3 separate regions of the Homo sapiens genome follow, and regions 1 and 2 are each linked to region 3. The links come from fine-mapping of genetic effects on gene expression. A gene starts in region 3. Each other region holds a variant in brackets. All regions are shown on one strand. Distances are from middle to middle.

Region 1 (2,762 bases), 130 kb before region 3:
TTGGCCAACATGATGAAACCCCGTTTCTACTAAAAATACAAAAATTAGCTGTGCATGGTGGCGGGTGCCTGTAATTCCAGCTACTCGAGAGGCTGAGGCAGTAGAATCGCTTGAACCTGGGACGTGGAGGTTACAGTGAGCTGAGATTGCGTCACTGCACTGCAGCCTGGGCGACAGAGTGAGACTCTGTCTCACAAAAACAAACAAACAAACAAACAATAAATAAATGGTAGCCTGTCATACATATAATTTTACTTTTGCCTTTTAAAAATTTAACAGCATATACCTTCACTATTTTACATGGAGCTACTTATAAATATATGTTCATAAACACACACAACACACGTATATTTTATTTTTTTCCTTTTATTGGCACAAAAGTCAAACCTAGGTGATCCTTCTCATCAGCCATTGGAGAAGGCTTCTAGGGCATGGGATTTTCCAGTATGAGGTGGTATTCTGGGTGCCAGAGATTCCTGACGTCAGATTTAGTGACGATGAACACTAAGCATCGTTTCCAACTGCTCATAGCTGTGGCAGATTGTATCCTTGTTCCCAGTTCTCTTCTGTCCACTCTGTAACAGGATCTGTCTGTATCACCCCAGGCCGCGGGACCTGGAGCACCTTCCCATGGGAGGAGTGTATTCCCTTGCTTCCTTGGCTTTAGGCTTGGAAGAGGGTGGGAGTTGTACACGCCAAGTCCAAGTCAAAGCTCTAAAGACCATTGTGGACTTCTGCTTTGTGTCTTTGTCCGTGACCATGAGGTTGGAGATAGGAGCTGGGCTGTTCCTTCAGCTTGGGTCTCAGACTAAGAAGACATGGAATAAAGCCACAGTTGACCCACATCTTTGAATGATGTGTGTGAGAAATAAACCGTGCTTGCTGTAATCCCCTAAAATTCTGGAGTTGTTGGTTACAGCAGCCTAACCTGGTGAAAGGTGACTCCTGCTAGGAGACAGTGTTGGCTGTGCTCAGTCACAAAGCACCAGACGGCTCTGAGGATCTGGTTCCTTGCTCGCAGTGTCCTCTGTTTGATCTGGATCAGCTGTCCGTTGATAAAGAAGCTGAGCTGTAATCACAGCACTTTGGGAGACCAAGGCAGGTGGATCACCTGAGGCCAGGAGTTTGATACCAGCCTGACCAACATGGTGAAGCCCCACCTCTGCTAAAAATACAAAATTAGCCAGGCGTGGCAGTGCATGCCTGTAATCGCAGCTACTTGGGAGGCTGAGGCAGGAGAATTACTTGAACCTAGGAGGTGGGGGTTACAGTGAGCTGAGGTCGCACCATTCCACTCCAGCCTGGGCAATGAGAGCGAAACTCTGTCTCAAAAAAAAAAAAAAAAAAGGAACCTCAGGTTGTTTTTACAGGAACCAAGATGTCCCACACTTAGGGACTTTTCT[G/A]TACTTTCTATATGATGTGGAAGTGCCAATAGCTGGGGATTTTCAGGAAGTTATTTGGCAATGCAAAACAAGAGTTCTAAATAATTTTCACTTCTAGAAATCAGCTCAAGATAATAATTAAAAATACACAGGGAGGTTCATGGTAGAGTTATTTGAAAAATTGGAAGCCACCTAAATGCCCCATTACAGGGCAACAGTGTATACACTATTCTATGTGATGGACATTATGAAGCCATTAAAAATCAAGTTGCTGAATATTTAATGACATAAAGGAGATGTTGGTTTTTAATATTGAATGAAACAAACAGGACACAGAACTGCATATGTATAACAGTCCTAATTTGCAGAACAAATTTAGGATTGTGCCGTTTATAATTTTATATATTTTTTTCACTTACACTTGTGAATAAACATTTCCCCTCAGTCGTCAAATAAGTAAATATGTATAAAAAGAAGACCAGGAAGGAAATAAGCAAAAATAGCGGTTATTTCTAGTAGAGAGCATTTCCTTTCCTGTACTTTCTATATTTTCTAAACATTCTACGATGAATGTGTACTACTTTTATAATAAAAAAAAGTGGCTGCTACTTAAAAATGAGAATTATTCCGGTCACCTCTAGGGCTGTGCCTTTGTGCTGTGCTTACCCAGGGGCCTTAACTGGGGCTCCTCGTCTAAGAATAAGCCTGTGTGTTTAATTAGGTCACTCTCCTGCCGACCTAGAATCTCCGCACAGGGCTTAGCTTGTGCTGCCCAGAACCCCCCAGGAGCCGCCCTCCGAGGGAACTCTCAGCTTCTCACAGACAGGCACTGCTTCTGCCTGCTGAGTGTGAATTTGAGACTTCTGTGAACTGTCACTCCTACAGAGCTGCCACTCTCAGGTCTCTCCAACCTATCTTCTTTAAAAATCAATTCAGACGGCCGGGCGCAGTGGCTCCCGCCTATAATCCCAGCACTTTGGGAGGTCAAGGCGGGCGGATCACTTGAGGTACAGAGTTCGAGACCAGCCTGGCCAACATGGTGAAACCCCGTCTCTACTTAAAAATACAAAAATTATCTGGGTGTGGTGGTATGCACCTGTAATCTCAGCTACTCGGGAGGCTGAGGCAGGAGAATCGCTTGAACCCAGGAGGCAGAGGTGGCGGTGAGCCGAGATCGTGCCACTGCACTCCAGTCTGGGTGACAGAACGAGACTCTGACTCAAAAAAAAAAATCAATTCAGACATAACTTATTGAAGAGAAAATGAAGACGGGAACATTTTAACCATTTTGGATGATGATAATTCATTAATTCAATAATGAACAATAGCTGCGGTGCCAGGCAGCTACTGTTCATTGTTTCCTATGGCCTTCCCTGTATG
Region 2 (2,762 bases), 48 kb after region 3:
CTAGGAGCAGGGTGGGAACCTGTGGATGAAGAATTACTAAAAGGGCATATCAGGGGTGAGGGGGCGTCCTGGCTACACCCACTAACTACTGTTGCTGAAGAAAGGCCTGGTGACATCACTGGGGAATGGTGGGGGATGAAGAATCCAATCAGATGGATATTGAGGATAAGGGGATCTTGATAAACTGGCTTAGGAGGGTTTTTGCTAAAACTGGTTTTCATAGGTAAGTCCACAGATAGGTCTTGGAGAAAGTTCAGGGACCTACGGTTTGTTCGGGCAGATGCTTTGTCATCTGTCACACTGGCACTGTCACCTGGCTTTCCTTTAGTCCCTCCCCCCCTTTTTTTTTTCTGGAGTAGTTTTGGGAGACCAGAGGAGCAGGGAGTTAGGGAGAGTAGTCAGAAAAGGCCAGAGAAAATAAGGAGGTGTCTGTAGGGAAAATCCTTAAATCCTCTAATTAAATTAATTTAATTTATTTATCTGGGACAAGGTCTCACTCTGTTGCCCAGGCTGAAGTGCAGTGGTGTGATCTCGGCTCACTGCAGCCTCGACCTCAGGGCTCAAGCAGTCTTGCCACCTCAGCCTCCTGAGTAGCTGGGGCTCACAGGTGTGCACTACCATGCCCGGCTAATTTTTGGGTTTTTTTTTTTTTTTTTTTTTTTTTTTGTAGAGATGAGGTTTCGCCATGTTGCCCAGGCTTGGTCTCGAACTCCTAAGTGATCCATCCACGTCGACCTCCCAAAGTGCTGAGATTACAGGCATGAGCCACTGTGCCCGGCCTAAATTCTCCAATTTTTAAATGCTTCCCTGTTCCCTGTTCCAGATTTGGGATATTGACTGCTGTTAAATCAGCGATTTCTCCCTGTGGAGAGGTAGCCAATAGGAAGCAACAAGAGTGAGGAGTCCTTATATCGAAATAGAGGGTAAGAGAAGAGACAGATGTTATCTTGGCAGTGATTTAAGAACAGCGAGTCTGTAAGCAAAGCAAAGCAAGGCTCCCAGGTGCTGAGAAACAATGGCTTTCTGGGGAAGCGTCTGTGTTCAGAACCTTAAGTTGGAAACATCTCTGAAGATGTTTGCCATGAAGGTTTTCTTCTGAAGTTGAGTCTTTCATCACTAGGTAGGCGTGTTTTGGAG[G/T]CTCTATCAAACAGATCCTGTGTTTATTAGGAAGCTGTGGTTCATAAAGCCCCATGCTAATTTTGCAGGTAGCAGGGTGGCCCTGGCCTGACCCGGGGACAGAGTGGCTGTCCTCCCTCCAGGCAGGAAACTCTCTCCTGCCACCTAGTGGCTGCATACCCACATTTCAAGGGAGCTTCTGGGTGGTGAGTTTACCAGACTATGGTCTGAGGTAGAGTTAAGCAAAACAAAACTAAACTGCATAAAGAAACAGAAAGAAAATCAGGTGTTATAAAAACAATTTGGCATTTGTTTGTGTTTCAGCTCCGTGTCGATTTATTGCTTCCACAAATAGTGCCGATATGCACCAGGCACTGTTGTAAAACTGAAAATATGTTTTTGGATGTGCCCAGTCTGTGAGTATTAAACGATGGTTGATTTGAAATTTGCTATGATTCATATTTCTGGGGGTAAGATGCAGGATTTCTTTGGGGGGCCTAGGATGTGGCATTCCAGAATTCTCAAAGAATCAACCCTGGTGGGACCAGGAAGAGCTGAGCTGAGGCCTCTCTGCTCATGTGTACTTACTGGAGATCATGGAGACAGGTGAGCCTGAGTGCACGTCTCACCAAAGCCACAGCAGAGGGGGAGGAGGCGGAAAGAGAGCTCTCTCCATTTCTGAGAAGTTAATGGTAACAATGGCATACATACCTACTTTACAGTTGAAATTGGAAACCACAGCATTAAGTGTTTCCAATGAAATTTGGCAATTTGGGAGTTTTCTGAGCTGCATTGGATGTGGTTTTGCATGCTGTTAGGATGAGCAAGAGATGATGGAGAACATCTTCCTTTTGAGCTTCCTCTTGGACGTGGGTCACTCCCACTCATGGAATTAGAAAGCTTAGACCTAGACTTGAATCTCACCTTCTCAAGGTGCTCCCGGGCAAATCACTTAAGATCCATCTTCTTCTCCTCCTGCTCCTTCTCCTCCTTCTGAGTTTTTTTTTTTCTTTCCAAAATTCAAATGACACGGTACTGGTAGAAGAAAAGGTCCAAGTCTGCTTTTACAGCTCCCCTCATCCCCAAATGTACTCCGACCCCAAGATGACCATGTTATTATTTGATTGGCATCCTTCTAGTTTCAACTCATTTCTTTGCATGTATATGCACGTACATATACACTATTTTATTTTGCCAGGGGTCACGGTTAGCTGCATTAATTTCTTTTAAAATAATCTTTATTTAGTTATAGTTTACATTTAACAACATACTCATTTAAGTGTATAGCTTGATAAGTCTTCACTGTAAACCAAAAATAAAATTCTAAGCCCCCCCAACCATCTGAATGGACCCCTCTTCTTGGCCAAGAGCATTCCAAAGTTAACCTGAAAAAACTAGTTCAGGTCATGATGGAAGGGAAGGTTGGACATGCCCCAGTATACCCTTCTCCCTTTTGGAATTCAGGAAAAGCTGACCAGCATTAACATCAACACAGACCTTATGTCTGATAGGAAACTTTGACAATCTATTCCCTCTGAAGCTTGCTACCCGGAGGCTTCATCTACAAGATAAAACCTTGGTCTCCACAACCGCTTATCATAACCCAGACATTCCTTTCTGTTGAGAATAATCTACCTTGTAACCTG
Region 3 (2,749 bases):
AGACTTGACTGTTCATAAGAAACTGCAAACAGCCTGCCTCTCAAAGCTGCCTGAAACACCTGGCAAGTTTCACAGTGATATGCGCAGAACAGTCCAGAAGGCAGATTCTAGGCCTGGCAGGTGGGCACCCTGGGTGCTCCCTGTTGGATCTTGAGGCCTAACCTCTAGCCCAGCAGAGTCAGCTAAAATCTGAGCTCTCCCTCTCCCTCCAAGCCACACTTTGCAAAGGGATTCCTTGTATTGTGGGCTTGGAGTCTTTTCTCCCCATTTGCCTCTGCAGGAAGCCCTTGCAACAACACATCTGGATAGCCTCCAGGTCCCAAGGCTGGAGGGACTTGTAATGGGAAAGTAGTCTTTAAATCAGATTTACTTGGCACCCTGTTTGCCACTGAAAGAGGCAATTTAGGGGAAAAATCTGGTCTCCAAGCACAGATAACACTCTACTCTTGAAAGAGGAGACCTGCTCATGTTACTGGTCTCAGCGTCTCCACTGACCTGTAATAAGCCATCATTTCACTGGCGAGCTCAGGTACTTCTGCCATGGCTGCTTCAGACACCTGTGTAAAAAGGAGAAAATGAGTGACTTCCCCATGACGGCTACGTTCATGTGTGATTTCTCTCAGCATCCAGTGCATGGCAGTCATGCAAAGAAATGATCTCTGAGTAAATGAATGAATGTGTGAAAGAGAAGTCCTTTGGGTCTAGAGAAAAGCATTTGCTAAACCAAACCCCAACTAGCAATGTATTGGCTAGGAGAGCTGGAGCAGAGGCTTTGACACTAACCTTTAGGGTGTCAGCTGTTAGATAAGCAGTATCCATTCCCAGAATATTTCCCGAGTCATAAGCATTATATTACACCTGGCATTTTTGCAAAAAGCTGAGAGAGGGAGGCAGAGAGGGAAGGAGAGGGAGAGACAGAGAAAGAAAGAGAGAGAGAGAGAGAATATGCATACACACAAAGAGGCAGAGAGACAGAGAGACTCCCTTAGCACCTAGTTGTAAGGAAGATTAAAGTCATACTTGAGCAATGAAGATTGGCTGAAGAGAATCCCAGAGCAGCCTGTTGTGCCTTGTGCCTCGAAGAGGTTTGGTATCTGCCAGTTTCTCCCTCGCTGTTTTTATGGCTTTCAAAAGCAGAAGTAGGAGGCTGAGAAATTTCTCTGTTGAATACCTGATTTCACAATCAAGTTAAAGGAAAGGGGAAAAGAGTATTGGTGGAAGCTTCTTAGGGGAGGGGACTAATAAACTGAGATAATTCTCTGGTTCATGGAAGGGCAAGGAGTAGCAAACTATGACACATTTTGCAAATGTATCACCATGCAAATATGCATTGTTTTCCTGACAATCGTTGTGCAGTTGATGTCCACATTAAAATACTGGATTTTCCCACGTTAGAAGAATGTTTAAATTTAGTATATGTGGGACAAAGTGGAAGACACACAGATTTATACATGCACATACTTTTCTTCATTCACTTCTTTGTACTTAAGTTTAGGAATCTTCCCACTTACAGATGGATAAATGGGTACAATGAAGGGCCAATAGCCCTCCCTGTCTGTATTGAGGGTGTGGGTCTCTACCTTGGGTGCTGTTCTCTGCCTCAGGAGCTCTCTGTCAATTGCAGGAGCCTCTGAGGAGAAAATTGACCTTTCTTGGCTGGGGCAGAGAACATACGGTATGCAGGGTTCAGGCTCCTGACGGAGTTGGGGCAACCCTGGAGATAAGCTCACACAACCCTGCAAGACCAGGTGCTGTTACCCTAGCCAATCTCATGGATGAACCAGATCAATGCCAGATGAGCTCTGCCTAAAATGATTTTTTGGTGAACTCTGAAAAGTGGAATATTGTTTCTGTAAGAATATCCATCTGAGACTCTATCTCTTGGTAATACCAACCAAGAGTTATCAGTTTCTCTTTAACCGAGACACCAGCAAAGTGCCTGCTCCAGGGTACTGCCCAGGGGAGCCCTCCATTTGTAGAATGAATGAGAGTCCAGGTTATGAACAGTGCCTGGAGTGTAGGAACACCCTCCTTTGCCTCTTTGACAGGTCTGCATCATAACACTTTTTTTTTTTTTTTGAGACAGAGTCTCACTCTGTCGCCCAGGCTGGAGTGCAGTGGCACGATCTCGGCCCCCTGCAAGTTCCGCCTCCCGGGTTCACACCATTCTCCTGCCTCAGCCTCCCCAGCAGCTGGGACTACAGGCACCTGCCGCCACGCCCGGCTAATTTTTTGTATTTTTAGTAGAGACAGGGTTTCACCATGTTAGCCAGGATGGTCTCGATCTCCTGACCTTGTGATCTGCCCGCCTCGGCCTCCCAAAGTGTTGGGATTACAGGCGTGAGCCACCGTGTCCAGCCTGTAACACTTCTTATAGCACTGAGTTGAAACCTTGCTCCTCCTGGTTCCTCCAGGAAACTGAAATCTTTTTGAGCCAAGTCTAGCACAGTGCCTGGCATGTACATTCAGGTGGTAGAGTTTGCTGCTTGAATGGGTGAATGGGAATTTGACAGCATTTTTATTCAAATTAGTATGTGCCAGGTATCGTGCTCGCTCTGCATTATCCAAGGGAGTGAGCCTCTGTGCAAGTATTTGAGACACGAGGGAAATAGGTTCTACTGTGGGAAAAAGAGCATTTCATGGACTTGCTCTCCAAGCAGCCTTCTGATTTTTAATTTGGCTCCCAGTATCTTGATATCAGGAGTCAGTCACAAGAACTCCATCTTTAGTAAGTTATATTTTCCACAGG

Which allele goes with the higher level. Alleles are on the strand shown, and positions count from the first base shown. SD is a standard deviation of normalised expression in the study named. Not every link is listed here.
For the expression in unexposed skin of the gene that starts at base 1,092 in region 3, G is the low allele of the variant in region 2 and T is the other (small effect, 0.26 SD a copy in GTEx).

What was found.
Region 1: its variant is fine-mapped to the expression of IL1B in whole blood (TOPMed, PIP above 0.99).
Region 2: its variant is fine-mapped to the expression of IL1B in unexposed skin (GTEx, PIP 0.94).

What each region holds. Positions count from the first base shown.
Region 1 is chr2:112,707,000-112,709,761 of GRCh38, forward strand. No RefSeq gene overlaps it. Among named protein-coding and RNA genes, the nearest start is that of NT5DC4, 13 kb to the right of the region's middle. RefSeq lists an enhancer at 1,374-1,553. The variant G/A (reference allele first, on the strand shown) is at 1,404.
Region 2 is chr2:112,883,818-112,886,579 of GRCh38, forward strand. No RefSeq gene overlaps it. Among named protein-coding and RNA genes, the nearest start is that of IL37, 26 kb to the right of the region's middle. The variant G/T (reference allele first, on the strand shown) is at 1,138.
Region 3 is chr2:112,835,688-112,838,436 of GRCh38, forward strand. IL1B (interleukin 1 beta) reads right to left here and starts at 1,092. Exons shown (of 7, transcript NM_000576.3): 1 at 1,021-1,092; 2 at 496-557. The coding sequence starts at 542.